Linked DNA regions of Homo sapiens. The protein of the gene in region 1 interacts with the protein of each later gene in a pairwise test. Each region holds a gene or a part of one and is shown on either strand. Other genes may lie near its edges.

Evidence for each region.
Region 2: the proteins of FAM107A (region 1) and CCDC125 interact in binary tests that used the Homo sapiens proteins (3 or more experiments, as listed by UniProt).
Region 3: the proteins of FAM107A (region 1) and NFKBID interact in binary tests that used the Homo sapiens proteins (3 or more experiments, as listed by UniProt).
Region 4: the proteins of FAM107A (region 1) and RINT1 interact in binary tests that used the Homo sapiens proteins (3 or more experiments, as listed by UniProt).

What each region holds. Positions count from the first base shown.
Region 1 is NC_000003.12:58,574,390-58,581,506, reverse strand, and holds the start of FAM107A (actin-associated protein FAM107A), read left to right. Parts: upstream 1-4,115; 5' UTR 4,116-4,198; intron 4,199-6,692; exon of another isoform or gene 6,693-7,117. UniProt on the Homo sapiens protein: Stress-inducible actin-binding protein that plays a role in synaptic and cognitive functions by modulating actin filamentous (F-actin) dynamics. Mediates polymerization of globular actin to F-actin. Also binds to, stabilizes and bundles F-actin.
Region 2 is NC_000005.10:69,329,788-69,336,910, forward strand, and holds the start of CCDC125 (coiled-coil domain-containing protein 125), read right to left. Parts: upstream 3,015-7,123; 5' UTR 2,862-3,014; intron 1-2,861. UniProt on the Homo sapiens protein: May be involved in the regulation of cell migration.
Region 3 is NC_000019.10:35,890,540-35,897,564, reverse strand, and holds part of NFKBID (NF-kappa-B inhibitor delta), read left to right. Parts: intron 1-461; coding exon of another isoform or gene 462-506; coding exon 507-652; intron 653-733; coding exon 734-839; intron 840-1,026; coding exon 1,027-1,173; intron 1,174-1,295; coding exon 1,296-1,347; intron 1,348-1,436; coding exon 1,437-1,585; intron 1,586-4,397; coding exon of another isoform or gene 4,398-4,505; exon of another isoform or gene 4,506-4,862; intron 4,863-7,025. UniProt on the Homo sapiens protein: Regulates the expression of IL-2, IL-6, and other cytokines through regulation on NF-kappa-B activity. Functions in the regulation of inflammatory responses.
Region 4 is NC_000007.14:105,535,191-105,542,215, reverse strand, and holds part of RINT1 (RAD50-interacting protein 1), read right to left. Parts: intron 5,652-7,025; coding exon 5,467-5,651; intron 490-5,466; exon of another isoform or gene 361-489; intron 1-360. UniProt on the Homo sapiens protein: Involved in regulation of membrane traffic between the Golgi and the endoplasmic reticulum (ER); the function is proposed to depend on its association in the NRZ complex which is believed to play a role in SNARE assembly at the ER.

The DNA.
Region 1 (7,117 bases):
CTGAGGAGGAAGTTTTAAGTTGCCATGGAAACTTCTTGTTTGATGTTCGTGGGCCCAGATAAGCTGTTCTAGGCGCCCATGGGCTTGGAGAAAGGGGGCAAAAATGAAACAAAAGCTGTTTGGGGAGGTTATTTTCTGCACACTGCAGCCCAGCCCACTATAGATGCAGGAAAATTCTCCACCTCCCTGTCAGGACTGCCTCCCCTGGTCTTCCCTGTCCCCCTTCCTTTGGGTTCCTCTGGTTCCCAAGAAATCAGAGTTAAAAGGGGATGGGAGGGAAGACAGGAGGGGTGTGCCCAGCCCCTGGGCTTCCCCCTTTGATGCCCCAGCTCACCAGGGGGCCGAGCAAGTATGCAGATCCCCAGGCCCCTGGCTTCCCAGAGTCCTTCCTTTTGGAAGAATAGGAAGACCTCCAGGGAAAGCCACACAGAAGGAGGCAGGAGACAGCGACTGTGGCTTGAATTATGCAATTACCTGGAGTAAACGCCTCAAAGGCTTGTTTGTTCAGAGGGCCTCTGTTTTCCCATATTCTGATGACATAACTGAGCCAGATGTGATTCCTAACTAACTACAGTTGTTTGGGAAATGTTGCTCTTTCTCACATTTTTAATTCTTAGAGTCTTTTTCTGATAACAAAAGTAATATATGCTAGGGCCTTTTTTTTTCTTTTAACACCGCAAACATCACAGAAATGCAGTGACAAAGGAGAAGGGCCTGTAATTTTACGCTGTAGAACAATGGTCCTCAAACTCTTTAATATAAATGAGCCCCCAGAGAGGTATGTTTAAAATCCAGATTCCATGGTGGCTTCATTCCTGTGATCCTAGCACTTTGGGAGGCTGAAGCAGGAGGAACACTTGAGGCCAAGAGTTCAAGACCAGCCTGGGCAACACAGTGAGATCTCATTTCTAAAAAAAATAAAAAATTAGCTGGGTGTGGTGGCATGTGTCTGTAGTCTCAGCTACTTGGGAGACTGAGGTGGGAGGCTCGCTTGATCCCAGGAGGTCAAGGCTGCAGTGAGCCATTATGGCACCACTGCATTCAGCCTAGGTAACAGAGTAATGCTCTGTCTCAAAAAAAAAAAAAAAAAAAAAATCCAGATTCCTAGGTTCCTCCCTAGGAAAAAAAAAAAGCAAGAGCATTTTTAGCACTCATTTCAAATGACATCTAGTAATAGTATTTGAGATACACTGATCTAGAGTTGACCTCTGCTAACAGATTAGTGTATTTGCCTCCACACTAGTTCTTTATACATATACCAACTTTTTTATCTTGAAAAAAAAAAGAGATCCTACTACATATGATTTTTCATTGAATATGTAGAAGACATCTTTTTCAGGTCAATACATAGACATGTTTATTGGCTGCATCTCGTCTTGGGGTGTAGCATAGTCTCTTGCTGATGGAGTGTGGCCTGGGAAAGGGTGGTGGTTGGCCGCTGATCTCACGTACAGTTGCACCTGCACATGGACACACAGCAAGATGGTGCTGTAACAAGCTCAGCGCTGTCAAGGTTTTCGGTGTCTTCAGGTTAACAATAGTTATTGAGCCCCTCAGTACTGGGACAGGAAGATAGGTAGGTACCTGCCCTGGGGCTAGCAGTCTGATGGGTTTGTATACAAGTTGGACTGTGAGAAGAGTTTTTGTGGGAGAAGCACAGTGACTCCCAACTGCCCACGGAAAATGACGCCCAACATCCGAGGACTACTGCCCAGTTCTCCTTGGCTGTCAGGTGCGTGTTCCTCTGAAGTGTACCAGGTGATGGGCTTCTGTCTTCTCCGGGGATGAGCAGGAGCTGTCAGAAGTTCCCCCGCTCCAGGATCCTTCTTACTCTCCAACTGTTAGAAGGCACTGGGATTGGTTCATCTGAGCCACCAAAGACCCTAGGAAATATTCAAAATACTTCTTTGCAGAGCAGGAGGATGTGTGCAAGGAACCAGGGTCAGCAAAGAGTGGTTTGACAAGAATCTAGCTGTCCTCTTCTACCAGGAGAGTTTGGGGAAGTTAAGGCAGAGCAGGGTGGGAGGCTGAGGGGGCTACCATTCATAGTGCCTCAAGAAATGCAGAATTGGGGAAGAAGAAAAAAAGGGACCACACATTGTTTCCAGAAAATTGTTTTATACCCAAGAATTTAGGACCCTCTTAGTTTAAGTGGCTCGAGAATGGTCAGCGTGGCCAAGACTCCCTGGACATGCCTGCCCTGTCCCTCCCACTCCACCCCTGTCTCCCACCTCCCTCACTCCCAAGATGGCACCCAGCCTGCCTTTACATCACACCAGGATCCACCCAGTCTGGGCCTTTCCACTGGCTCTTCCCACCCTACGAAGACTCTCCCATGTGTACAGACTTCACACAACTGACTCCTTGTGATTCTGCTACCCTAAAACACCACCCGCTCTCACCTCACCCAGCCTTGCGTTCATCACGGCATTCCTCACTGCCTGACGTCATCCTGAATGTCCCCTTCTTTACTGTGTGTCCCCCTTGAAGGTAGGTTCCCTGACAGCAGGGATATTACCTGTGTCATTCACATGGTACCCCCAGCACTTAGAACAGTGCCAGGAACACAGTAGGAATTAAATAAATGTTTGTTAAATGAACAAATAATATAGGCCAAAGAAGACACAAGGTTGCCTTGTTAAAGCCTCCATTCACCTGTGATGCATGTCCTAGGCCTCATCACCTTCTAGCCAACCAAGACTCCATGAGAAAGTAAAGTTGGGGTGGAGGCCTGGTCTAACTGGTAGACCCCAGCTTCCTCACTGGGGAACTAGGATGACACTAAACGATAGAAAACACTTCCAGCTTTTCAAGTGAAAGCTGATTCTGAAATTAGGAGAATGCCTCCATTATCTATAAGCATCCAGGCTGGCCTTAAGGATCTACATACATTTTTTACTTTTCTTGGGTTTTTTTGTTTGTTTGTTTTTTGGGTTTTTTTGAGACAGTCTTGCTCTGTCACCCAGGCTGGAGTGCAGTGGCCCAATCTTGGCTCACTGCAAACTCTGCCTCCCAAGTTCAAGCAATTCTCCTGCCTCAGCCTCCCAGGTAGCTGGGATTACAGGTGTGTGCCACCACCCCTGGCTAATTTTTGTATTTTTAGTAGAGACAGGGTTTTACCATGTTGGCCAGGCTGTTCTCAAACTTCTGACCTCAAATGATCTGCCTACCTCAGCCTCCCAAAGTGCTGGGATTACAGGCATGAGCTACCATGCCTGGCCTACTTTTATATTTTACATTCACATGTTCATTCATTGAGCCACTACTTATGGAACACATATTCTGCCAGGCAAAATGCACCATGCTGGGCTCTGGCCTCAGATCACGTAGAGTCCAGGTCTCTCTTGGAGAAAAGTCCTATATGCTGAGCTTTGACTATGTGCTTCACTAATGTCATCTCATCCATGTCATCTCCCAACCACCCTGGTATGCTCCACATTTGACAAACACAGAAACCAAGACACAGAGACACTGAGTGGCTGCTGAAGGGGCTGGTGCTGGAGCCAGGGCCAACACATGAGCCTGCTGAGACCCAGACACGGTGCATCCCCTCTCCCACGCTCTTCCGTTGGCTCCTCTGTGAAGTTCCAATGACATTCAAGGTATCAGGAAAACGCTGTGTACGGAGTTTCTGACCCATTCGTGGATAATTAAGAACTGACCCAATGCTGAGCAGTTTCCCCTCCCTTTACACCCCACCCTTTTCCCCCCAGAGCCATTTTCTCCTGAAGAATCCACACCACTGCCTCAGGAAGCTTGGCTTCCCCTCCCATGGGGAAGTGCTGGAATCCACTCTTGCCTGACCCTCCCATAAGAAACAAGGGAAATTCCTTTACGTGAGCCGCCTTGCTCAGAACAAAGCTTGGCGTGTTTCTTATTCCTCATCAATCTGACAAAATGGGTATTTATTTGTGCCTCTCAAGCGTGTGGCTTGGACATGATGTTCCGCATCGTGGAAGTGGCCGTGCACCAAGTGGAATATCTGTTACTATAGTAACAGTTCCTTTTTATTGATACCAGAATAAACAGGAATGCAAAGGCTGTCTCACTTGTTGGCACATTTCAGCAGCCTCCGTTCCCAGGGGTTTAAGAACCGCCCTCTAGAGGCAGCCCTCCTTGCTAGTCTGGGACTTCCCGGTGGAGTGAGGAACCCAGCAACACGCTCCTGACTTCCCTTCCCAAGGACTCGACCTGAGAAGTAAGACCATCTCTGTTCTGTTTCATCTGCTGTTGAGAGCGGTGCCGTTCGGGAGGAGGTGGAAGGGAAGGAGGGCAGACCCGGTACACTGAAGTGGGCTGTCAGTGGACCTGAGTGCTTTGAGTTTAGGTACCCGGGCTATGTCCCAGCATCCATAAAATGATACGGGAGATGCCTCCAGGCACCCTGGGTTTCGGAAAAGGGTAGGAGACAAAGAAGCGAGCCCCCTGGCATAGCCCTGCATTCTTGTTGATCTTTTTCTGCTGCATCCTCAGGTGAATCTGAATTAATGCATGATATAGCCTCACCTAAGTCAATTATCACACAGTATGGGGGTTTAATTCTCAGCACAACAGACAGAACACAGATTTCAGCTTCAGAGTTTGGCTCAGATTCAAGCTCTTTCCTTCACCGGCTGTGTGATTTGGGGAAATCAGATGACTTCCCTGAACTTCAGTTTCCTTGACTGTAAAAAGAGGATAATAACAGTACCCACCTCTTCAGTCTGTCGTAAGAATTTCATATTTCATGAGATATGGCTGCTAGGTGCTTAGCACAGTGCATGGCACATAGTGCACGCAGGTTAACGTGTGAAGGGCCTGCCTTTCTGGTGAATTTGGCTTTAGGACTTTGCAATACAAGGCAAGTCTGAGATTGGGCCAGAAATCAAGAGCTGTAGGATTGGGTGTGTCACTTTTTGAAACTGCTACCAAACCCAAGTAGCTTTGAGCTTCAAGGCAGCCCCCACGCCTGCATCTCTGGGTGGCTTAGATCCTGAGTGGCCCTCTTAGTTCTGTTGGTGGTGAGTACCTGCTGGAATTTTCCCTGCAGAGGCATCTGCCAGGTAAAGTGGCTGACATCATGCCACTAATGAGCCAGCAGGGATTCCAGGTCTGCTGATGCTTGTTCCAGATCAACTGCACAATGCTGTCCACTAACCTTGCTAAGTATCCTCCATGTCTAGCCCTGGACTCTGCTATTTAATTGGTTCAAAATCCTAAATGTCCACCCAACATTCTCCTTCCGAGGTAGGAAGTTGCAACGGACCTGAGGCAAAATGTTCAGGAAGTCAGCCTTGAGTCATTGCATCCAAATGGACAAGCAGCTCTGCTGGGGGCTTCCGAGCATCGACCAGAAGCTGCTGGGAGATCTGGAGGTGGCTCCGAGATACACTGTTCTTTGGCTGCTGGCCAGTGAAATACAAATAGGCACTTTCCCCATGGAGAGGAAAAAAGCCAGAAGGGTCAGGAAATCCAGTGACCGTGCTTGTCACTTTTACTGAATGCCTGTTTTTCCTTTGCCAGTCGTTATTTTGAAAGCCTCTCTTCTCCTCTGCCCTGGCATCCCATTAAATGCTGAACCAAGAGGGTTCTGAATGTGTTCGGAACCCAGCAGCTTGAACAGTAATGAGGAAGTGGGGGCACAGGAGGGAAGGCCACCAGCTGGTCCTCTCCTAAACAGAGACCAGCCTGAGGCCAGACAGGCCCGTGGACTCTAGCTTAAGCCCAAAGCTGCTAGGGCCAGGCTGGGGCTCCCCAGTGAGAGTTTGCATTTCACGTAGGCTAGGAGTCCTCAAGTTAGCAGGCCTCCATGTTCTTATCTATAAAATGGGCTCACACAGCCTCTTCATTGGGGTTTCTTGACTATCTAGAGAGAGAAAAGGGACATAACCCTGCTTTGTCAACTAAAAGACATTTTGCACCTTGAAGACAGTGGAGAGGTAGAAAGAGCATTGAATTTGGCGTCCAAGGTCCTGGCTTTGCTGCTTACTCTCTGTGTATCGAGACAAGTAGCTTGGCCTCTCTGAGCCTTAGTTTTCTCATCTATAAAACAGGGTACCACTGGCTGCCTCCAAGGGTGATTTAGAGATCCAGATCAAATTCTAGTGGTGACCACAGGGTTTCTTCAGGACAGAAGTACCATAGTTTGTCTTCGGTGAGCATCACTCTGCCAGGCGCTGGGCTAAGCACATCATGCCATTGTATCACTTCACCCTCCAAACTGCTCCATGAATAGGCTGTTATCCTTGCTGTATAGAGGCTCAGAGAGGTTAAGCTACTTGCCCAAGGTAACACAGCTGGGAAGGATTGCCACCATGAATCAAACCCACTCTGTCTCCACTAAAACATCTGCTTTAACCATTGCTTTACTGGCTTATGTGTCATTTGTTACAACTGATGCCATCGAAGACAGAAACATGACTACCAGAACAGTGGAGAGGCAAGTGGAAGGGACACTGAGGCCTTAGACAGCCTGGGGTCCCATGGCTATTGTCAAGACGAACTGGGCCCCGAGACTCCATCAGTGCAGCTCTCCTTCTGTCTCTCCTTACTCTCTCCTGTGGCTGCAGGCACCAGTGTTTGGTTTCAAATCTGCCACCCTGCATTAGCCATGCATGCCCCAGTGGCCCGGTGCACTCTCCGTGGGAGCAGCAGTGATCTCTGCTGAGCCTTGCCTGGTGTGGGGCCAACATCCTGTGGAGCCTGTGGCAAGGAGCTCTGGGACCTCTTGGGTCACCAACAGAACCAGGGAGGAACCAAGCAAGGGGTTCCAAATCTTTCCTCAGACCCCTTATTATCCCCACCCCAGGAAAAACAACATCAGTCCCATAAACTGCATATTGAGAATTATTTGCCATCCTATAGTCATGCAAGACACTCAATAGCTGTCGCCTACTGGTGGCCTCCACCCCATGCCCAGCTCTTTAGCTCATCCAATCTTCACAGCATCACAATTCTACAGAGGAGCATCCCAGAGGTTAGAGACCATCCCAAGATCACACAGCTGCTAAGAACTGTGACCTTAATCAGATTTGCTCACAATAACCAGGCCAACTACAGTCAGCTGAGATCCTTCAGGACCGAAGCAAATAAGTTTGTGTTTTGGGTTTTTAACTCCATGGTTTGCAAAGTTGGCTGA
Region 2 (7,123 bases), on another chromosome or scaffold:
CCACCGAGCCCAGCTCGGATGTATTTTTTTCTATTCCAGCCCAGGCATACGTGACTTGCCCCAAATACAATGGTAATTAGCAGCAGAGCCAGGACTAGAAACAATATTTCTGGCTCTTTGTCCAGTCCTCTGGCCACTTGGGAAAGGCTGTAGGATGAATAGATTACAGTCTGTTAGCAGTCGTCTCACTTTTCCACTAAAACAACTCTTTAAAAGATGACCAGTGACTTCCTCATAGATAAATCCAAGATCAAGTTTCATTCCTCAGTCTCCTCTACCTTTGCAGGAGCTGTGACACTACTGACTCACTAAGTCCAGGTCCACCTGACTCCTGAAGCCCCTAGAAATAGAAATCTGATCCTCCTCCTTCCCTGACTCATATCTTCTCATATCTGTCCTCTAAGGCTCTTTTTCTTTTTCCTGTCCCTTTTGTAAATGTTTGGCTTCTTTTACTAATCTTAAATACACATCTCCAACTGGATATTCCACCAGCAATCCAAGCACATCTTGCTCAAAAACAAATTCACCGCCGGGCACGGTGGCTCATGCCTGTAATCCCAGCACTTTGGAGGCTGAGGCGGGCGGATCATGAGGTCAGGAGTTCGAGACCAGCCTGGCCAACATAGTGAAACCCTGTCTCTGCTAAAAATACAAAAATTAGCTGGGCACGGTGGTGTGCACCTGTAGTCCCAGCTACTCGGGAGGCTGAGGCAGGAGAATCGCTTGAACCCGGGAGGCAGACATTGCAGTGAGCCGAGATTGCACCACTGCACTCCAGCCTGGGTGACAGAGCAAGACTCCATCTAAAAAAAAAAAATTCACTATCCTCCCAGCCCCCATTCCAGGTCTCCCTCTGAGTCCTCTATTTCTGCAAATGCATCAACTATGCTCCAAAACACTCAGGAGCAAAACTTTGGAATTGTTTTTTCCTCTTTGGTCTTCACATGCCTTCAGTTGCTAGGTCTTCTAGACCCAAAAAAATCTCCCCAAACTATGTCATTCTTTGCACATTAATTTCACTGCCCTGGTGGAACGTCTCTTTAATTCCCCAAGGCTAGCCTGATAATTTCCTAATTGGTCTACTTCAAGCCAACCTACATACTGCTGCCAAGTCAATAATATCCAAGTGCAAACCGAATGATGTCTCTCTCTTGCTGTAAAACATTCCATGGCTCCCATGGCATGTATAATTGTAGTCAATGTCACCCTGTTTTCCTTTTTAAAAAAAATGTAGGCTGGGCACAGTGGCTCACACATGTAATCCGAGCACTTTGGGAGGCTGAGGCGGGCAGATCACCTGAGGTCAGGAGTTTGTGACCAGCCTGGCCAACATGGTGAAACCCCGTCTCTACTAAAAATACAAAAATTAGCCAGGTATGGTGGCGGGCGCCTTTAATCCCAACTACTTGGGAGGCTAAGCAGGAGAATCGCTTGAACTTGGGAGGTGGAGGTTCCAGTGAGCTGAGACAGCACTATTGTCTGTCACCCACGCTGGAGTGCAATGGTGCGATCTCGGCTCACTGCAACCTAGACCTCCTGGGTTCAAGCGATTCTCCTGCCTCAGCCTCCCCAGTAGCGGAGATTACAGGCGCCCACCACCATGCCCGGCTAATATTTGTATTTTTGTAGAGACGGGGTTTCACCATGTTGGCCAGGCTGGTCTAGACCTCCAGACCTCAGGAGATCTGCTCACCGGTCTCCCAAAGTGCTGGAATTACAGGCGTGAGCCACTGCGCCCAGCCGAAACTCCGTTTCAAAAAAATAAAAATAAAAATAATGTATCCAACTGAAGTGTCACCCTGTTTTCTACAACAAAGCTACAGTTTTCACCTCCAGTTTCATCTGGCAGTACTCCCTGGATGTACTCTGCGCTTCCACGTAAGAGGAACTGCACTTGCTCCCAGGGCTCCTCCCTCAGCTCAGCTTGGTCACCTGCAAGCCTCTATTGGTGCCATTCTTCACCCCAGGAATGCTGTTTCTTCTCAGAGCCCCCTCAGTTCAGGACAGCACTCCCTCCAGTAGCCTTCCTGACTCCCTTGGACCAGATGTGATTTCTTCCACATCTGAGTCTTCCCAGTTCTGGGAGGTTTTACTGAATCTTTTTAATAGTGCTTACTTCCTACCTGACCTAGACTGACTGTATATTCCCTTATGCAGAGACTTTGTGTGTCTCGTTTGCTTATGCACAACATGTGTTCCAAAGATATTTGACAGAATCGAAAGAGAAAACCGATTCCTGCCCGGAAACCTTTGGACAGAAGAATCTACATTCAGTAGCCTGACAACTCTGCCTTAGCAAACAAGTTGGTCAAACATGCCTAACTCCATGACAAAGAGGAACTAACTTGAGCCCTCCCTGGTGAACAATGGCCTGCTGCACTTTGCTTTAGGATTTTGTTTCTTAACTTTTCATTTTAGAATAATTTTAGATGTACAGTAAATTGCAAAGATAGTACTAAGAATTCCTGTGTACCTTTTACCCAAATTCCTCTAATGTCAACATTTGTGTACAATTTGTCGAAATTAAGAAATTAACATGGGTACGTGCTATTAACTAAACCACAGCCTTTATTATTTTTTCCACTAATGTCTTTTTCTGTTTCAGGATCCAAACCAGGATACTGGCGCTATAGTTTTATAAGGCTCAAAATTAACAGAAGAGAAAAAAAGTAAAGCAGGTGGAGAGGCAGAGAGAGAAATAGGGTCTCTGAAATCTATTTCTTATTTTTTTCTTATCAGACGAGGCCATTAAACTGGCATTCAGGGAAAAGGATTTGGGCAGTTTGTCCACAACCTGCAGAGTTTCCACGAATCTGCGCATCCCGCCCCTGCCCTGGGTCCTCCCCACTCCCGGTTCCCACCTGCCAGGTCTGACCCCGGGTACCCTCTCAAGGTCCGTGGCGGGGACCGGAGCCCGGACTCCAGCTCAGCGAACAGCACCCTCCTACCGCCCCGGCGCCCCACTCAGCTCGCTCACCTGGCAAGTAGCCTCCTCTCCGTGCGCGTGCGCCGCTGCCGCCGCGCGTCCTCCGGGCCACCACGTGACCGCGTGGGCGCAGTCCCAGACAGGAAACGCCGGTGAGGTCGCCCTGGGCCATGGAGGCAGCTCGCGCTACTTTTTCGCGACCTCACTGTGTTCCTGTGTGCAACCTGATGTTAGCTCTGTCCACCTTCAGCTCCAAAGCCAACCACGGGTAACCAATATGCAAACAATGACATGAGATTTAGAAAAACAACAAGACGGGGCCTGTGTCAATACAGGTAAAATTTGGTGGTTCAAACATTGAGGTTCAGACCGGCGCGGGGTTTCACACCTGTAATCCCAGCTTTTGGGAGGCCAAGGCGGGAGGATCGCTTGAGGCCAGGAATTCGAGACCAGCATGGCCAACATAGTGAGACCCCGCTCTACAAAAAATTTAAAAAGTAGGGCTGGGCGCGGTGGCTCACGCCTGTAATCCCAGCACTTTAGGTGGCCGAGGCGGGTGGATCACGAGGTCAGGAGATTGAGACCATCCTGGCTAACACAGTGAAAACCCTTCTCTACTAAAAATACAAGAAATTAGCCGGGCGTGGTGGCGGGTGCCTGTAGTCCCAGCTGCGCAGGAGGCTGAGGCAGAATGGCGTGAACCCGGGAGGCGGAGCTTGCAGTGAGCCAAGATCGTGCCACTGCACTCCAGCCTGGGCAACAGAACGAGTCTCCGTCTCAAAAAAAAAAAATAATTAAAAAGTAGCGGGTGTGGTGGTGCGTACCTGTAGTCCCAGCTACTCAGGAGGCCGGGAGGCCGTCAGGTGGGAGGATCCCGTGAGCCTGGGAGATCCAGGCTACAGTGACCACTGCACTCCAGCCTGGGCGACGGAGTGGAGACCCTGTCTCAAAAAAGAAACAAACCAAAACCAAAATATTAAGTCTCTAGGAATCCTGTAAGAGAAGGGTAGATCGGGCCAGGTGCGGTGGCTCACGCCTGTTAACCCAGCACTTTGGGAGGCCAAGGTGGGTGGATCACCTGAGGTCAGAAGTTTGAGACCAGCCTGGCCAACATGGTGAAACCCCATCTCCACTAAAATACAAAATTTAGCCGGTCGTCACACGTCCGGAGGCCGAGCCGTCGCGTACCTAGGATGCCGCGTGGAAGCCGAAGCCGCACCTCCCGCATGGCCCCTCCGGCCAGCCAGGCCCCCTCAGATGAGAGCTGCACCCAGGCCAGTACCAGTCGTTCAGCCACCAGCAGCGGCACCCCCATCTGTAGTTGGCTCTTCTGCTGCTGCGCCCCGGCAGCCAGGTCTGATGGCCCAGATGGCAACCACTGCAGCTGGCGTGGCTGTGGGCTCTGCTGTGGGTCACGCCATTACTGGGGCTTTCAGGGGAGGAAGTAATGCTGAGCCTGCGAGGCCTGACATCACTTACCAGGAGCCTCAGGGAACCCAGCCGGCACAGCAGCAGCAGCCTTGCTTCTATGAGATCAGTTTCTGGAGTGTGCCCAGAACCAGGGTGACATCAAGCTCTGTGAGGGTTTCAATGAGGTGCTGAAACAGTGCCGACTTGCAAACGGATTGGCCTAATCAAGAAGTTCAACCTGGAGAGATGGAAAATCAGCTCTCATAACTAAGTTAATTTAGTATAAAAATAGAATTGATAGTGAGGGTATAAAGTGTAACCATGAGTTAAACCTCTCCTGTCATTCCTAGCTTCCTTGCTTCAGAATTGAAATGGAAGGGGGGTGTTCCTACTCTGTAGAATCTGTGACAGGGCAAATGTTTGTGTGGCCTCCTTAAACTAGCTGTTATGATTTTATTCTTTGTGAGTTAATTAGAATAAAGTCATTTTCTTCCAAAAAAAAAATTAGCCGGTCGTGGTGGCAGGTGCCTGTATTCCCAGCTGCTTGGCTGAGGCAGGAGAATCTCTTGAACCCGGCAAGCGGAGTTTGCCGTGAGCCGAGATCGCGCCACTGCACTCCAGCCTGGGTGACAGAGCAAGACTTTGTCTTAAAAAGAGGAGGTGGGGGTGGGAGAGAGAGAGAGAGAGAGAGAGAGAGGGAGAGGGAGGGAGAGAGAGAGAGAGAGAAATCTAAGCTGAGGTTCAGAGGTAGAGGCAGTCATTGAAAAACAGGCTTTTGCGGGCGGGCGGCGTCCACTGCAAGGATGCACTGTCTGGCTCCCTCTGGAGGCGGGAGCACGAAGGAGCGACCACGGAGCCCTTGAGCCTGTGGATGGTGGCCTCGGCGGCCGGCAGGCCATGCTGGAGTATCTGCCAACCTGATGAAGACGAGGACGTCCCACAAGTTCCGGACAGACGTGGCCGCCAAATTAATGAGGAAAGAAAAGGAGTCTTTTTTTTTTTTTTTAAAGACAGAGTTTTTCTCTTGTTGCCAGGCTGCAGTGCAGTGGCGAGATCTCAGCTCACTGCAACCTCTGCCTCCCGGGTTCAAGTGATTCTCCTGCCTTAGCCTCTGGAGTAGCTGAGATTACAGGTCTGCACCACCACGCTCAGCTAATTTTGTATTTTTAGTAGACAGGGGGTTTCTCCATGTTGGTCAGGCTGGTCTCGAACTCCTGACCTCAGGTGATTCGCCCGCCTTGGCCTCCCAAAGTGCCGGGATTACAGGCGTGAGCCACCGTGGCTGACCAAAGGTGTCTTAAGCTTAGAAAAATGATAAAAGATATAAAAGCTGCCTAGGAATGAAACTACTGGGTCATATGAGGCTCCTTCAGGGTGCGCAAAGTCCTGGAAACCAGCATGCAGATAAGGAAAGAAAGAGACCATCAGTCCATGCAGTTGTCAGCTGGCTGGGAGCTGAGGAGAGTCACTTGTGGAGGCACCTGATCTTTGTCCCCCACGTCCCAGACAAGCCCATATCTCACTTTCAGAACTAAGATGCTTGGGAAACCAAGACAAGGAACTGTGTATTGCAAACAGCATTACCCTAGAGAAGAAGTGGCAGGAGATGACCTACAAAAAAATGGAGCAATAGCCTAGAGCAAGAAACAGAACAAAAGAGAACTGAGTCACCTCCTGGAAGGTCACACAAGACAAGCACATATTCAGGGGCCTCCTAACAGACTAGACTTCCAGCATCCTCAGTTGGGGCTAGACACTTTTTACATAGACATTCAATACTAGAGAACTCAGGGACATCTGATTTATACCATGAAATACATACACAGCAGATGTGTGCCTGTGGAGCAGAATTCTGGAAAAGCTCACAGCCCAGAACATAATGCAGACTCCCCCAGCCACAGCACCTTCCAATCCTGAGAAGAGTGCTGATTCTCCATCTGAGCACCCATTCTCCTGCAACATCAGGGGAGAGGAGTTCACCTAAGGATCAGACCAGTATCTCCAAACCCAGCTCCCCACCTCTGCCTGTTGGTGGCACTTGTGGGTGAAGGGGAGATGGTATGAAAAGACTCACAACAGGAGTCACCTGAACAAGGTGGGGCTTGGTGGAAACTGACATTTGTTCCTGTTGGAGGCAAATGTGGAATTTGGCATCTTGCCTTAGCAACAGACACATGAAATTCTCCAGTGCCCAGGACTTTTGACAGTGACTTCAAAGCACAGCTGGGAGACCCATGTGGCCCAGGCTCTACCCAGGCAGGAGCTCAGCTTCACTCACAGCAGGATTCCTAGTGCCAAGAACACCATGGGTGCATAGCAGGTGATCAAAATAATTGTATGTGGCTGAATCAGTGAGAGGTAAGAGAGAGGACTTGAGGCCGGGCACGGTGGCTCATGACTGTAATCCCAGCACTTTGGGAGGCTGAGGTGGGTGAATCACAAGGTCATGAGATCAAGACCATCCTGGCTAACACAGTGAAACCCCATCTCTACTAAAAACACAAAACATTAGTCGGGCGTGGTGGCACGCACCTGTAATCCCAGCTACTCGGGAGGCTGAGGCAAGAGAATCGCTGGAAGTCGGGAGACGGCGGTTGCATTGAGCTGAGACTGCACCACTGCACTCCAGCCTGGGCCACAGTGCGAGACTCCGTCTCAAAAAAAAAAAAAGAGAGAGGACTTGATCCTAGCGGCAAACTAAGAGACCTCATTAAAACCTAACATGTGAGGCCCAGCATGGTGACTCATACCTGTAATCCCAGCACTTTGGGAGGCTGAGGCTGGAAG
Region 3 (7,025 bases), on another chromosome or scaffold:
CAGTTACGATTCCCTTTTCCAGGCCGGGCGTGGTGGCTCACACCTGTAATCCCAGCACTTTGGGAGGCTGAGGCAGGCGGATCACTTGAGGTCAGGCGTTTGAGACCAGCTTGGCCAACATGGTGAAACCAAAAATAAAAAAATTAGCTGGGTGTAGTGGCGCACGCCTGTAATCCTAGCTACTCGGGAGGCTGAGGCAGGGGAATTGCTTGAACCCAGGAGGTAGAGATTGCAGTGAGTAGAGATTGCACTGCTGCACTCCAGCCTGGGTGACAGAGCAAGACTCTGTCACCGAAAAAAAAAAATACCCTTTTCCAGGTGGGCAAAACTGAGGCCTAAAGGTCCAAGGTCACTTGGCATAGATGGGATACCCAGGGGCTCTGCATGCAGATGTGTGTGTGGTGGCTTGGGATGGAGGAATTCTCAGCTGACTGGGTCTCCCCACCACCTGCACCCTCCAGGACCCCCCAGACACCCAGTTCTATGTAGGATCTTCTCTGCCACAGGCTGGACCCTGGAGAGTTTCTGCACCCCCTTCAGGACCCCCACAGTTCCCCGCTGTGGTCCCTGGACCATCGCTGGAGGTGGCCCGAGCTCACATGCTGGCTTTGGGGCCACAGCAGCTGCTGGCCCAGGATGAGGAGGGGGACACGTGAGTATAAGGGATAGGGTTGTCTGCAGACTCTTGGCTTGGTGGGGGCTGTTCTCACGGCTGTCCCCCACCTGTCCTCAGGCTCCTTCACCTGTTTGCGGCTCGGGGGCTGCGCTGGGCGGCATATGCTGCGGCTGAGGTGCTCCAGGTGTACCGGCGTCTTGACATTCGTGAGCATAAGGGCAAGGTGAGGCTTGGGGCCTGAACTCTCCTGGGTTCAGGGGAGGAAGGAGCCTGGGGCCTGGACCCCTGGATCCTAGAGAAGAGGGGAATGGGGGGTGAGCTCCTGGGGCTGAGGGGGGATGGGGCTGGGAGCCTGGTTTTCTGACGGGAGGGAACCAGGAGCCCAACCTGACTTCTCCTGTGGCCTGCAGACCCCTCTCCTGGTGGCGGCTGCTGCCAACCAGCCCCTGATTGTGGAGGATCTGTTGAACCTGGGAGCAGAGCCCAATGCCGCTGACCATCAGGGACGTTCGGTCTTGCACGTGGCCGCTACCTACGGGCTCCCAGGAGTTCTCTTGGTATGGCCAGCTGGCAGGCAGGGGTTTGTCTGGGGGGTAGACTGGTTGCCCAGATTTTGGCTTCCAGGGCCAGGAGGCCAGGGGATACCCTTACCCAGCAGTCTGCCTTCTCTTCCTCCCAGGCTGTGCTTAACTCTGGGGTCCAGGTTGACCTGGAAGCCAGAGACTTCGAGGGTAAGTTGGGTGTGGGCAGGGCTGGTGTGGTTGGTGTGGCTGGGCGAGGTGGGTGCAGATGCGGGTCCCTCACTGTCTCCATTCTGCAGGCCTCACCCCGCTCCACACGGCCATCCTGGCCCTTAACGTTGCTATGCGCCCTTCCGACCTCTGTCCCCGGGTGCTGAGCACACAGGCCCGAGACAGGCTGGATTGTGTCCACATGTTGCTGCAAATGGGTGCTAATCACACCAGCCAGGTGAGCGGGGATGTGGGCGGTCAGACCCTGGGAGATTGTGTGGAATGGGGCCACTTGGATGTCCGGGAGCTCCAGGCAAATGCTGACTTTGCCTCTTCCTTGCTGCGTGCCCTTGAACATGTTACTTCACTTCTCTGTGCCTTAGGGGTTTTTTGTTTGTTTCTTTGTTTGTTTTGAGATGGAGTTTTGCTCTTGTTGCCCTGGCTGGAGTGCAATGGTGTGATCTTGGCTCACCGCAACCTCTGCATCCCGGGTTCAAGTGATTCTCCTGCCTCAGCCTCCTGAGTAGCTGGGATTACAGGCATGAGTCACCACGCCTGGCTAATTTTTTTGTATTTTTAGTAGAGACAGGCTTTCTCCACATTGGTCTTGCTGGTCTCGAACTCCCGACCTCAGGTGATCCACCTGCCTTGGCCTCCCAAAGTGCTGTGATTACAGGCGTGAGCCACCGCGCCCAGCAGGGTTTTTTTGTTTGTTTGTTTTTTTGTTTTTGAGACAGGGTCTCACTCTGTCGCCCAGGCTAGAGTGCAGTGGTGCAATCTCATCTCATGGCAAACTCTGCCTCCCAGGTTCAAGTGATTCTCCTGTCTTAGCCTCCTGAGTAGCTGGGACTATAGGCGCACGCCACCATGCCTGGCTATTTTTTTTTTTTTTTTTTTGTATTTTAGTAGAAGTGGGCTTTCATTGTGTTGGCCAGGCTGGTCTCAAACTCCTGACCTCAAATGATCCTCCCACCTTGGCCTCCCAAAGTGCTGCGATTACAGGCGTGAGCCACTGTGCCTGGCCCCTAGTTGTTAACTGGGAATAATATTACTGACCTTAGGGTATGTTATCAAGCACTTACTATTCATTCATCAAGCACTGAGTTTCATAGATTAGCTTATTGAAACCTCACAAACACCCTTTGACATGTGTACTCTATTTTCTCTATTTTACTGAAAAGGAAACAGGCATGGGAAATCAAAAATCTTTTTTTTTTTCTTTTTGAGATGGAGTTTTGCTCTTGTTGCCCAGGCTGGAGTGCAATGGTGTGATCTCGGCTCACCACAACCTCCGCCTCCTGGGTTCAAGCGATTCTCCTGCCTCAGCCTCCCGAGTAACTGGGATTACAGGTTCCCACCACCACGTCCAGCTAATTTTGTATTTTTAGTAGAGACAGGGTTTCTCCATGTTGGTCAGGCTGGTCTCGAACTCCCGACCTCAGGTGATCTTCCTGCCTCGGCTTCCCAAAATGCTGGGATTGCAAGCGTGAGCCACTGCACCTGGCCTCAAAAATCTCTTTGAGACAGGGTCTCACTCTGTCACTCAGGCTGGAGTGCAGTGGCATGATCACAGCTTATTGCAGCCTTGACCTTGTGCACTTAAGTGATCCTCCCACCTCAGCCTCCCAAGTAGCTGTGATCACAGGCATGCACCACCATGCGTGGCAACTTTTTTGTAAGGTGGGGTCTAACTATGTTGGCCAGGTTGGTCTCAAACTCCTGAGCTCAAGCAATCCTTCCACCTCTGCCTCTGAAAGTGCTGGGATTACAGTTGTGAGCCACTGCACCCAGCCTGAAAAATCTTATAGCTTGTGACTGTCAGAGAGAGAATTAGAACCCAGGTAGTCTGACTTTAGAACCTAGCTTTTAATTATGTTCTGTTCCTTTCCTGTGACAGTAGCTCCTTCATAGGCTGGCTGAGAGAATTAAACATCCACAAAAAATGTTTATTTATTTATTGAGATGGAATCTCACTCTGTCACCCAGGCTGGAGTGCAGTGGCATGATCTCGGCTTACTGCAACCTCTGCCTCCCGGGTTCAAGCCATGCTCCTGCCTCAGCCTCCTGAGTAACTGGGACTACAGGCATGCACCACCACGCTTGGCTAATTTTTTTGTATTTTTAATGGAGACGGGGTTTCCCTATGTTGGCCAGGCTGTTCTCTCAAACTCCTGACCTCAGGTGAGCCGCCCGCCTTGGCCTCCCAAAGTGCTGGGATTACAGGCATAAGCCACTGCGCCCAGCCGAAAAATGTTTTTTTAGTTAAAGAATGTTGAACACCAATAAAATATAGAAAATAGTGGAATGAACTCCATATGTCCAACATCAATAACCAGCCACTCATGGCCAGTCCTGCCCCATCCACTCTCTCACTTTCAAGTGATTTTTTTTTTTTTTTTGAGATGGCTCTCGCTCTGTCACCCAGGCTGGAGTGCAGTGGTGCGATCTCGGCTCACTGTAAGCTCCGCCTCCCGGGTTCACACCATTCTCCTGCCTCAGCCTCCTGAGTAGCTGGGACTATAGGCACCCGCCACCACGCCCGGCTAAATTTTTGCATTTTTAGTAGAGACGCAGTTTCACCGTGTTAGCCAGGATGGTCTCGATCTCCTGACCTCGTGATCCACCCGCCTCGGCCTCCCAAAGTGCTGGGATTACAGGCGTGAGCCACTGTGCGTGGCCTCTCACTTTCATGTGATTTTTAAGCAAATTCCAACATGTATTTTTTTCAAAAATATTTGTGTATCTTTAAAGAATAATGGTGTTTAGCAGAATTAGCTAGATGGTGGGGATGGACTGTAAGAAGGACGGGCATGACTGAGTAGAGACAAGATAAGGCATTATTAGCGGGGTTAGGAAATGAATGATGGTAATCTAGGCTCTTAATGGTTGCAAAGTAGAGCTAAGTGATCATTTGGGCAATACAGAGAAGGTGAAATTGATACTTTGGTAATTCATTCGTTTCTTCACTCAGAATTTTGGACACATATGATGTAGCTACCAGTGTGCTAGTGATGGGGCATAAAGTTGCTTTTTGTTTGTTTGTTTTTTAGAGACAGAGTCTGGCTTTGTCACCCAGGCTGGAGTGCTGTGGTGCGATCACGAATCACTGCAGCCTCGACTTCCTGACCTCAAACATTCCTTCCACCTCAGCCTCCTAAGTAGCTGGGACTACAGGCATGAGCCACCTCACCCGGCTAATTGTTTTATATTTTTTGTAGAGAGGGGGGGTCTCACTATGTTGCCCAGGCTGGTCTCGAACTCCTGGGCCCAAGTGATCCCCCAGCCTTGGCCTCCCAAGTGCTGGGATTACAGGCGTGAGCTGCTGTGCCCAGCTACCTATAATGTTTTAATAAGAAAAGACCACTTTCTTGTACTTTTAGACATTAAAATTTAATGGAAAAGAGAGGAGATGATAAGTAAACAAAGAACTGAACATAATTACAAATTGGGATGAGAGCTGCCTTGGGAATGTAGAAGGAGCTCTTAGACAATAAAAAGATTGGCTTTATATTGGATGCGGGGCTCACAATGAAGGTCATTCTGAGGAAATTACATTTAAGTTGAGCAAGAAATGATGAAGAGGAAGAATTAACTGTGTGGTAGGGTTCTGGGAGAACTCAGAAATCAGGGAGTATTTCTCTGAAAAAAGGACAAATAATTTTTTTTTTTTTTTTGAGATGGAGTCTCGCTCTGTCGCCCAGGTTGGAGTGCAGTGGCACAGTCTTGGTTCACTGCAACCTCCCAGGTTCAAGTGATTCTCCTGCCTCAGCCTCCCGAGTAGCTGGGACTATAGGCATGTGCTATCACACCCCACTAATTTTTGTATTTTTAGTAATAATAATAAGTTTTTTAAAAATAAGAAAGATGGCTGGGTGCGGTGGCTCATGCCTGTAATCCAAGCACTTTGGGAGGCTCAGGTGGGCGGACTGCTCGAGCTCAGGAATTCGAGACCAACCTGGGCAACATAGGGAGACCCCATCTCTAAAAAAAATACAAAAATTAGCTGGGCTTGATGGCACATGCCTGTGGTCCCAGGTACTCAGGAGGCTGAGGTGGGAGGATCACCTGAACCTGGGGAGGTCAAGGCTGCAGTGAGCCATGATTTTGCCACCACACTCCAGCCTGGGTGACAGAGCAAGACCCTGTCTCTCAACAACAACAACAACAATAATAAAAGATAAGAACTCTTTCCCTGTAATCCCAGTGCTTGGGGAGGCTAAGGTGGGAGGATCACTCGAGCCCAGTAGGTTGAGGCTACAGTGAGCCTTGGTCACACCACTGCACTCCAGCCTGGGCAACAGAGCGAGACCCTGTCTCAAAAAACAAACAAAAAACATAGCTTTTTTTTTTTGAGACGGAGTCTCACTCTGTTGCCCAGGCTGGATTGCAATGGTGTGATTTTGGCTCACTGCAACCTCTGCCTCCCGGGTTCAAGCTATTCCTGTGTCTCAGCCTCCCAAGTAGCTGGGATTATAGGCATGTGCCACCACGCCTGGCTAATTTTTGTATTTTTAGTAGAGACGGTTTCACCATGTTGGCCAGGCTGGTCTCGAACTCTTGACCTCAAGTGATCCGCCCTCCTTGGCCTCCCAAAGTGCTGGGATTACAGGCATGAGCCCCTGTGCCCTTCGAAAAAAAAGAACTTTTTAAACCTCAGTATCATTGCTCTGTCTTTAAAAAATTAAAGATTTTCTTGTAATACCAAATATCCTGGCTGTATTCAAATTTCCTTTTGGCTGTAAAATGATAATTTTTTTCATTAAAAAAAATCAAGATCCAAATAAGCACACATATTATGATGTTACGTCTTTTCAAATCACTCTTAATCTAGAGCTTTGGTTTTGTCTTCATCATTTTTTGGACGAGCAAACTAGGTGGTTTTGCCCTGTTATCAGCACATAAAATGTTTAACATTCATTATCGTTACAAACTCCTTAAAGACACATAAAAAGGTTTCATTTTAGAAAATGTCTTTTATTTTCCCCCAAATATGATGGGAACAGCTCAATATTGTGGTGCAGTATTGCAATATTAGCTAGTCCACTGATTAATGCTGCCAACTCCTGTGCTTGTAGATAAAGTACAGTCTGTGTGGGTCGGGATGCAATTTAATGTGTTGAATGGAGGGCAGGTAGCCAAGGCAGTTGCTTTGAAGAACTGGAAAAGGAGTCTCTTTCTCAGACACTGGTGGGAAAATTGTCATGAGAAATGTACAGTTCTGGAAGGTGTATGGTGTGAATGGTACACCCTGAGACGTGGTGTTGTGCGGTGCACAAGACATACAACTGAATAAGGCACTCTTGGTGGGGCTCGCAGAAGAGGGCCAGCATCTTATTTATTTATTTATTAATTTTGAGATAGAGTGTCACTCTGTCACCCATGCTGGAGTGCAGTGGTGTGGTCATGGCCCACTGCAGCCGTGAACTCCTAGGCTCAAATGAACCTCCTGCCTCAGCCTCCCAAGCAGCTGGGACTACAGGTGCGCACCACCACGCCTGGCTAATTTTTCTATTTTTTGTAGAGATGAGGTCTTGCTGTGTTGTCCAGGCTGGTCTGCAGCTCCTGGCCTCAAGTGATCCTCCTTCTTCAGCTTCCCAAAGTGCTAGGATTACAGGCGTGAACCACCGCACTCCGCCAAGGGTCAGGGTCTTTAAAGACTCCTGGATTCTGTGGGAGGG
Region 4 (7,025 bases), on another chromosome or scaffold:
CTACACATATGCACCACTACACCTGGCTTTTCTTTTTTTTTTTTCTTTAAATAGAAATAAGGTCTCACTATGTTGCCCAGGCTGTATGTAACCTTTTTTATTAGTTCGTTCCCTTCAAAATACACATTTTTTGTAACAGAACTGAAAATCATCCATCAAAACCTTCAAAAAAAGGTTTGATTTCTTCATCCTGTACTAATCAATCCAAACATAACATGCTGTTTTATATACACACAAATAGCAGGAAGAAGTATGCCTTTGTGTTGAAAACAATAAGTGAAACAAAAAAATAAAAATAAAATAAAAAATATATGCATACATACATATACACATACATGTAGAGAAAGGGACTTAACTCACTGGCTCCAGTAAGCATCTAGAGGTCTGCCTCCATAGGCTCAGCAGAGGATCCAGCTAGAGAAAACTTATTTTATTTTTTTGAGACAGAGTTTCGTTCTGTCACCCAGGCTGGAGTGCAGTGGCGTGATCTCAGCTCACTGCAACCTCCACCTCCCGGGGTCAAGTGATTCTCCTGCCTCAGCCTCCTAAATAGCAGGAATTATAGACACGTGCCATCACGCTCGGCTAATTTTTGTATTTTTAGTAGAGACGGGGTTTCACCACGTTGGTCAGGCTGATCTCGAACTCCTGACCTCATGATCCGCCCACCCCAGCCTCCCAGAGTGCTGGGATTACAGGCATAAGCCACCGTGCCAGGCCGAGAAAACTTATTAATACATGCTCTACCTGCTAAATATTTTCCTTCAAAGCAAAGGAAGGGCCGGGCACGGTGGCTCACACCTGTAATCCCAGCAGTTTGGGAGGCCAAGACAGGCGGATCATTTGAGGTCAGGAGTTCAAGACCAGCCTGGCCAACATGATGAAACCCCATCTCTACTAAAAATACAAAAACTAGCCAGGTTTGGTGGCACACACCTTGTAATCCCAGCTCTAGAGAGGCCAAGGCAAGAATCACTTGAACCGGGAGGAGGTTGCAGTGAGCTGAGACTGCACCACCGCACTCCATCCAGCCTGGGTGACAGAGCAAGACTCCTCAAAGAAGAAAAAAAAAAATGCAAGCTGGGTGCGGTGACTCACACCTGTAATCCCAGCACTTTGGGAGGCCAAGGTGGGTGGATCACAAGGTCAGGAGTTCAAGACCAGCCTGGCCAAGATGGCAAAATCTTGTCTCTACTAAAAAATACAAAAAAATTAGCTGAGCATGGTGGCACATACCTGTAATCCCAGCACTTTGGGAGGCTGAGGCAGAGAATTTCTTAAACCCGGGAGGCAGAGGTTGCAGTGGGCCGAGACTGCGCCACTGCCATCTAGCCTGGGTGACAGAGCGAGACTCCATATCAAAAAAAAAAAAAAAAAGGAAACAAAGATCTCATTCTAACAGGCTGAGCATCTATATTTTGCCAACATACCCCAGGTGATTCTGAATTAAGGCCAGGCTAAGAAGCACTGACTTGATGAGATGATATCCAGGCAATGCCTTTAGAAAGGGCATTTAGTGGCCAGGTGCAGTGGCTCACACCTGTAATCCCAGCACTTTGGGAGGCCAAGGAGGGCAGGTCACTGGAGGTCAGGAGTTCGAGACCAGCCTAGCCAACATGGTGAAACCCTGTCTCTACTAAAAATACAAAAATTCAGCCGGGCACAGTGTCTCATGCCTGTAATCCTAGCACTTTGGGAGGCAGAAGCTGGTGGATCACTTGAGGTAAGGAGTTTGAGACCACACTTGCCAACATGGTGAAACCCCGTCTCTAATAAAAATACAAAAACTAGCCGGGTGTGGTAGTATGAGCCTGTAATCCCAGCTACTCAAGAGGCTGAGGCAGGAGAATTGGTGAAACCAGGAGGCGGAGGTTACAGTGAGCTGAGATCGCTCCACTGCACTCCAGCCTGGGCGACAGAGTGAGACTCTGTCTCAAAAAATAAAATAAAATAAATACAAATACAAAAATGAGCTGAGGATGGTGGCGCATGCCTGTAATCCCAGCTATTCAGGAGGCTGAGGCAGGAGAATCACTTGAAACCCGGAAGGCAGAGGTAGCAGTGAGCTGAGATCACACCACCACACTCCAGCCTGGGCGACAGAGGAAGACTCCATCTCAAAAAAAAAAAAAAAAAGAAAATGGCATTTATTAAGTGAATTTTTCTTATAGTATGTGGGAAAACATATACAAATATTAGTCATCAGCAAAATACAAAGAACATTATAGAATAATTTCAATCAACAGTGATTAGATACTTATTCTGTACCAGGCACTGCGCTAGAAATATGCAGATAAACAAGACACAGCATCCGTCCTTCAGGTCACTTTGGTATATAAGAGTGTTGTAAGCAAATAATTTCAACAGTGGGATTAATGCAATAAAATAGACAGGCTATATTTAATGAATGGGCACATTAATCACCTAAAGATCTTGTTGTAATACAGATTCTGATACAGTAAGTCTGAAGTAAGACTGAGATTCTGCATTTCTACAAAGCTCCCAATCTGCCTAAACTAACATGGTATCAGCAAGAGTGGGAAAGATGGGCCGGGAGCAGTGACTCACGCCTGTAATCCCAGCACTTTGGAAGGCCAAGATCCACTTTCGGGCAGATCACCTGAGGTTGGGAGTTTGAGACCAACCTGACCAACATGGAGAAACCCCATCTCTACCAAAAATACAAAATTAGCCGAGCGTGGTGGCACATGCCTATAATCCCAGCTACTTGGGAGCCTGAGGCGGGAGAATCACTCGAACCCAGGAGGTGGAGGTTGCAGTGAGCCAAGATTGTGCCATTGCACTCCAGCCTGGGCAACAAGAGTGAAACTCCAACTCAAAAAAAAAAAAAAAAAAAAAAGAGTGGGAAAGATGGGATGGATACCAGAGATGTTGAGGCTGAACTCAGATGACTTGGTGATGGGATAGAGGATGAGAGGATGATAAGAAGGAATCTAGGACTCCTAGGCTTCAGGTCTGGGTGACAGGCAAATAGTGGTGCCATTATCTAACCAAGACAGACAAGCCTCTAAAAAATGGATCAGTATAGTTTTGGACATGCTGAATTTAAGGTTCAATAAGGAACTTCAGTAAAAGTTTCTGTGGTCATTAGGGAAACAAACCTGATTACAGTGGGTAAAAGATGAATGACAAAAAGTAGAGATAGATAACAAAGGTTACTTTCTGAAGCCTGACAATCAAAGGAAAGAACTAATACCTGCTAAAAGATCATGGGTTTTTTTGTTTCTTTGTTAAGGTTTTATGGAAAAGACCTGTCTATGTGCACATGCTGAAGGGATAGGACTGGTTGACGAACACAGGGTAAAATTATAAGAGTGACACAAGTTTACTGAGGTGGCAGAGAGAACCTGGGGTATAAGGTCTGCCTTCGACTGATCCTTTGCTGAATGAAGAGGTTAAAAATGACTGCACATAAATTTGTCGATTGTGGGATAGACTATTCAACAGACTGAATTCAATGCTACTAAATTCATGCTAGGCTTCTATTTTTTTCTGCTAGGGAAAAGGAAAGGGCAGAATGGACAGGTTGGGTAGATGTCTCAAACAGAATCTGAAAGAACAGTTGAGGGGAGTAGCAGAGGAGCTGACGTTCCCATGGAAGGACTGCTGGTGGGGCTGAAGACTCAGCCAGGGTGGCAGACCACACACATAGATTGGCATCAATCTACTCAGCTGCATGACTTCCTCCAACTGGGCCCACAACAACCTGCCTGCAGGAGTGAAAAGGCAGACAAAGCCAGGCTAAACTTGAAGACTAGCAGTAGTTGTGGTGGGAAGACAGGAAGGTGTGGAGGCCTAAGGTAATGGGGACAGGAGAATATACGATGACCAAAAACCTGGAAATAACCCACACAGAATTTACTTAACCTAATTTAGTAGCTATATGATAAAAATGTTTTATCTTGGCCGGGTGTGGTGGCTCATGCCTGTAACCCTAGCATTTTGGGAGGCCAAGGCAGGCGGATCACGAGGTCAAGGAATCGAAACCATCTTGGCCCAAGTGGTGAAACCCTGTCTCTACTAAAAATACCAAAATTAGCTGGGCGTGGTGTCGCGTGCCTGTAGTCCCAGCTACTCGGGAGGCTGAGGCAGGAGAATCACTTGAACCCAGGAGGCAGAGGTTGCAGTGAGCCGAGATCACGCCATTGCACTCCAGTCTGGGCGACAGAGTCAGACTCCGTCTCAAAAAAAAAGAAAAAAATGTTTTATCTTTGACAAACACACCATTGCCAAGTAGAGGGGCCTACTTATTTTTTTGTTTAAGCTTATACTCATTGGGTTTTTAAAAAATTATTTTAAGTGATATGTTCATTGTAAAAGAAAAAAAAACCTATAAATACATAGAAATATATATTTTTGAGACGGAGTGTCACTTTTGTTGCCCCGGCTGGAGTGCGATGGCATGATCTCAGCTCACAGCAAACTCCGCCTCCTGGGTTCAAGCGATTCTCCTGCCTCAGCCTCCCGAGTAGCTGGGATTACAGGTGCCCGCCACCACACCTGGCTAATTTTTTTTGTTGTATTTTTAGTAGAGTCGGGATTTCACCATGTGGGTCAGGCTGGTCTCAAACTCCTGACCTCAGGTGATCCACCTGCCTTGGCCTCCCAAAGTGCTGGGATTACAGGTGTGAGCCACCGTGCCAGGCCTAAAAATATTTTTTAAATACATCACTTGTCAACCAACCACACAGAAATAACCGTTACGTTATACTTCTTTTCACTTTATACTTCTCCCTATGGGTACATTTATTAAAATCTGAAATGTGGCCGGGTATAGCAGCTCACATCTGTAATCCCGGAACTATGGGAGGCCAAGGCAGGTGGATCACCTGCGGTCAGGAGTTCAAGACCAGCCTTGCCAACATGATGAAACCCCATCTCTACCTAAAATACAAAATTAGCTGGGCAGGGTGACACATGCCTGTAATCCCAGCTACATGGGAGGCTAAGGCAGGAGAATTGCTTGAACCTGGGAGGCAGAGGTTGCAGTGAGCCAAGATGGCGCCATTGTACTCCAACCTGGGCAACAAGAGCAAAACTCCGTCTCAAAAAAAAAAAAAAAAAAAAAATTGAAATGATGGTGTTTACACCATGGTATATATTTTTGTATGCCATGAAATTATTTGCTTGTAAAAGCAATTTAAAAGTCACTGTATGTTCACTAGAAACAGATTGAAAGGAAAAAAAAGTCACTCTATGAAAATCTATGTAAAATGTTAGGTCTCACTATGTTTTGAAGACAAACCATATCAGTAGGAACTTTGTCTTTTACCTAATTTGTAAAATAGGTAATACAATGTACGTTCTTAAATCCTCTTAAACAGTATATAATAGACTATTTGTCACGTTCTATATCTTTAAAATTCTATATATAATAGATTATGTTTATATTATATTGTTAAAAGTATTCCACTGATAATTATTTCAGTGAGTTTCAATACTTACCTGTTCTTCTAACTGCATTTTACTTACTGTCCTCTGTTCTATGAGTTTATCAAGTTTCTTTAAAGATTTAAGGTCATTTCCAACTTCCTTTTCTATGAATGCAGACACATAAGAAGGGAGATCACCATTATCTGTACCTTCACTGACTTGTTTACTTCCAATAAGAACTGTAACATTTATGTCACCTACAACAAAAGAATAACAATTACTCAACGCCACTAAGTACTATGGAGTTAAAGAAAATATAAAACATATAAAAGCAGTTTATCTGCCTTCAAAAGTTAATAATTTTGCCAGGCACGGTGGCTCACACCTGTGATCCCAGCACTTTGGGAGGCTGAGGCAGGTGCATCACCTGAGGCCAGGAGTTTAAGACTAGCCTGGCAAACACGGCGAAATCCCGTCTCTACTAAAAATACAAAAATTAGCCAGGCGTGGGGGCACAGGCCTGTAGTCCCAGCTATTCGGGAGGCTGAGGCACGAGAATCCCTTGAACCCAAGAGGCAGAGGTTGCAGTGAGCCAAGATCACACCACTGCACTCCAGCCTGGGCGACACAGACAGACTCTGTATCAAAAAACAAAACCAAAACAAAGCGCCACTGCACTCCAGCCTGGGCGACAGAGACTCTGTATCAAAAAACAAAACCAAAACAAAACAAAGTTAATAATTTAAAGAACAACACACACAGACAAATGCCCAGAAGAATAGCTCTAAAGCACTCTATCAAACAACTACTGCAAAATGCTTAAGAGCTGAGGGAAGTATTAAAGGAAAAATTCCTAAAGTGTGATCCAGTAACCACAGGTTTCAATAGACAAGGAATAATACCTTTTCAAAATGTGTAAGGAACCAGTAGTATGGTCTAGGGCAACACCAAAAGAAGACTCTTGTTTTAAAGTGTTTTTAAAAAGACCGGGCGCAGGGGCTCACACCTGTAATCCCAGCACTGTGGGAGGCCAAGGCAGGAGGATCACTTGAGCCCAGAAGTTCTAGACCAGCCTAGGCAACAAAGCAAGACTTCATCTAACAAAATTAGCCAGGAATGGTGGAACACACCTGTAGTCTCAGGTGGGCTGAGGTGGGAGGATTGCTTGAGCAGCCTGGGAGATGGAGGCTGCAGTGAGCCATGATCTCACTACTACATTCCAGCCTGGACAGCAGAGCAAGACCTCATCTCTTAAAAACAAACAAACAAACAAACAAAAAAGTAAAAAAGGTTTGGCTGGGCGAGGTGGCTCAGGCCTGTAATCTCAGCACTTTGGGAGGTTGAGGCAGGCAGATCACAAGGTCAGGAGTTCGAGACCAGCCTGGCCAATATGGTGAAAACCTGTCTCTACTAAAAATACAAAAATTAGCTGGGCATGGCGGTGCACGCTTATAGTCCCAGCTACTCGGGAGGCTGAGGCAGAAGAATCGCTTGAACCCGGGAGGCGGAGGTTGCAGTGAGCCGAGATCACGCCACTGCACTCCAGCCTGGGCAACAGAGTGAGACTCTGCCTCAAAAAAAAAAAAAAAAAAGGTTTTTAAGCTTCAAATGTCATCGATGTCATTGTACAA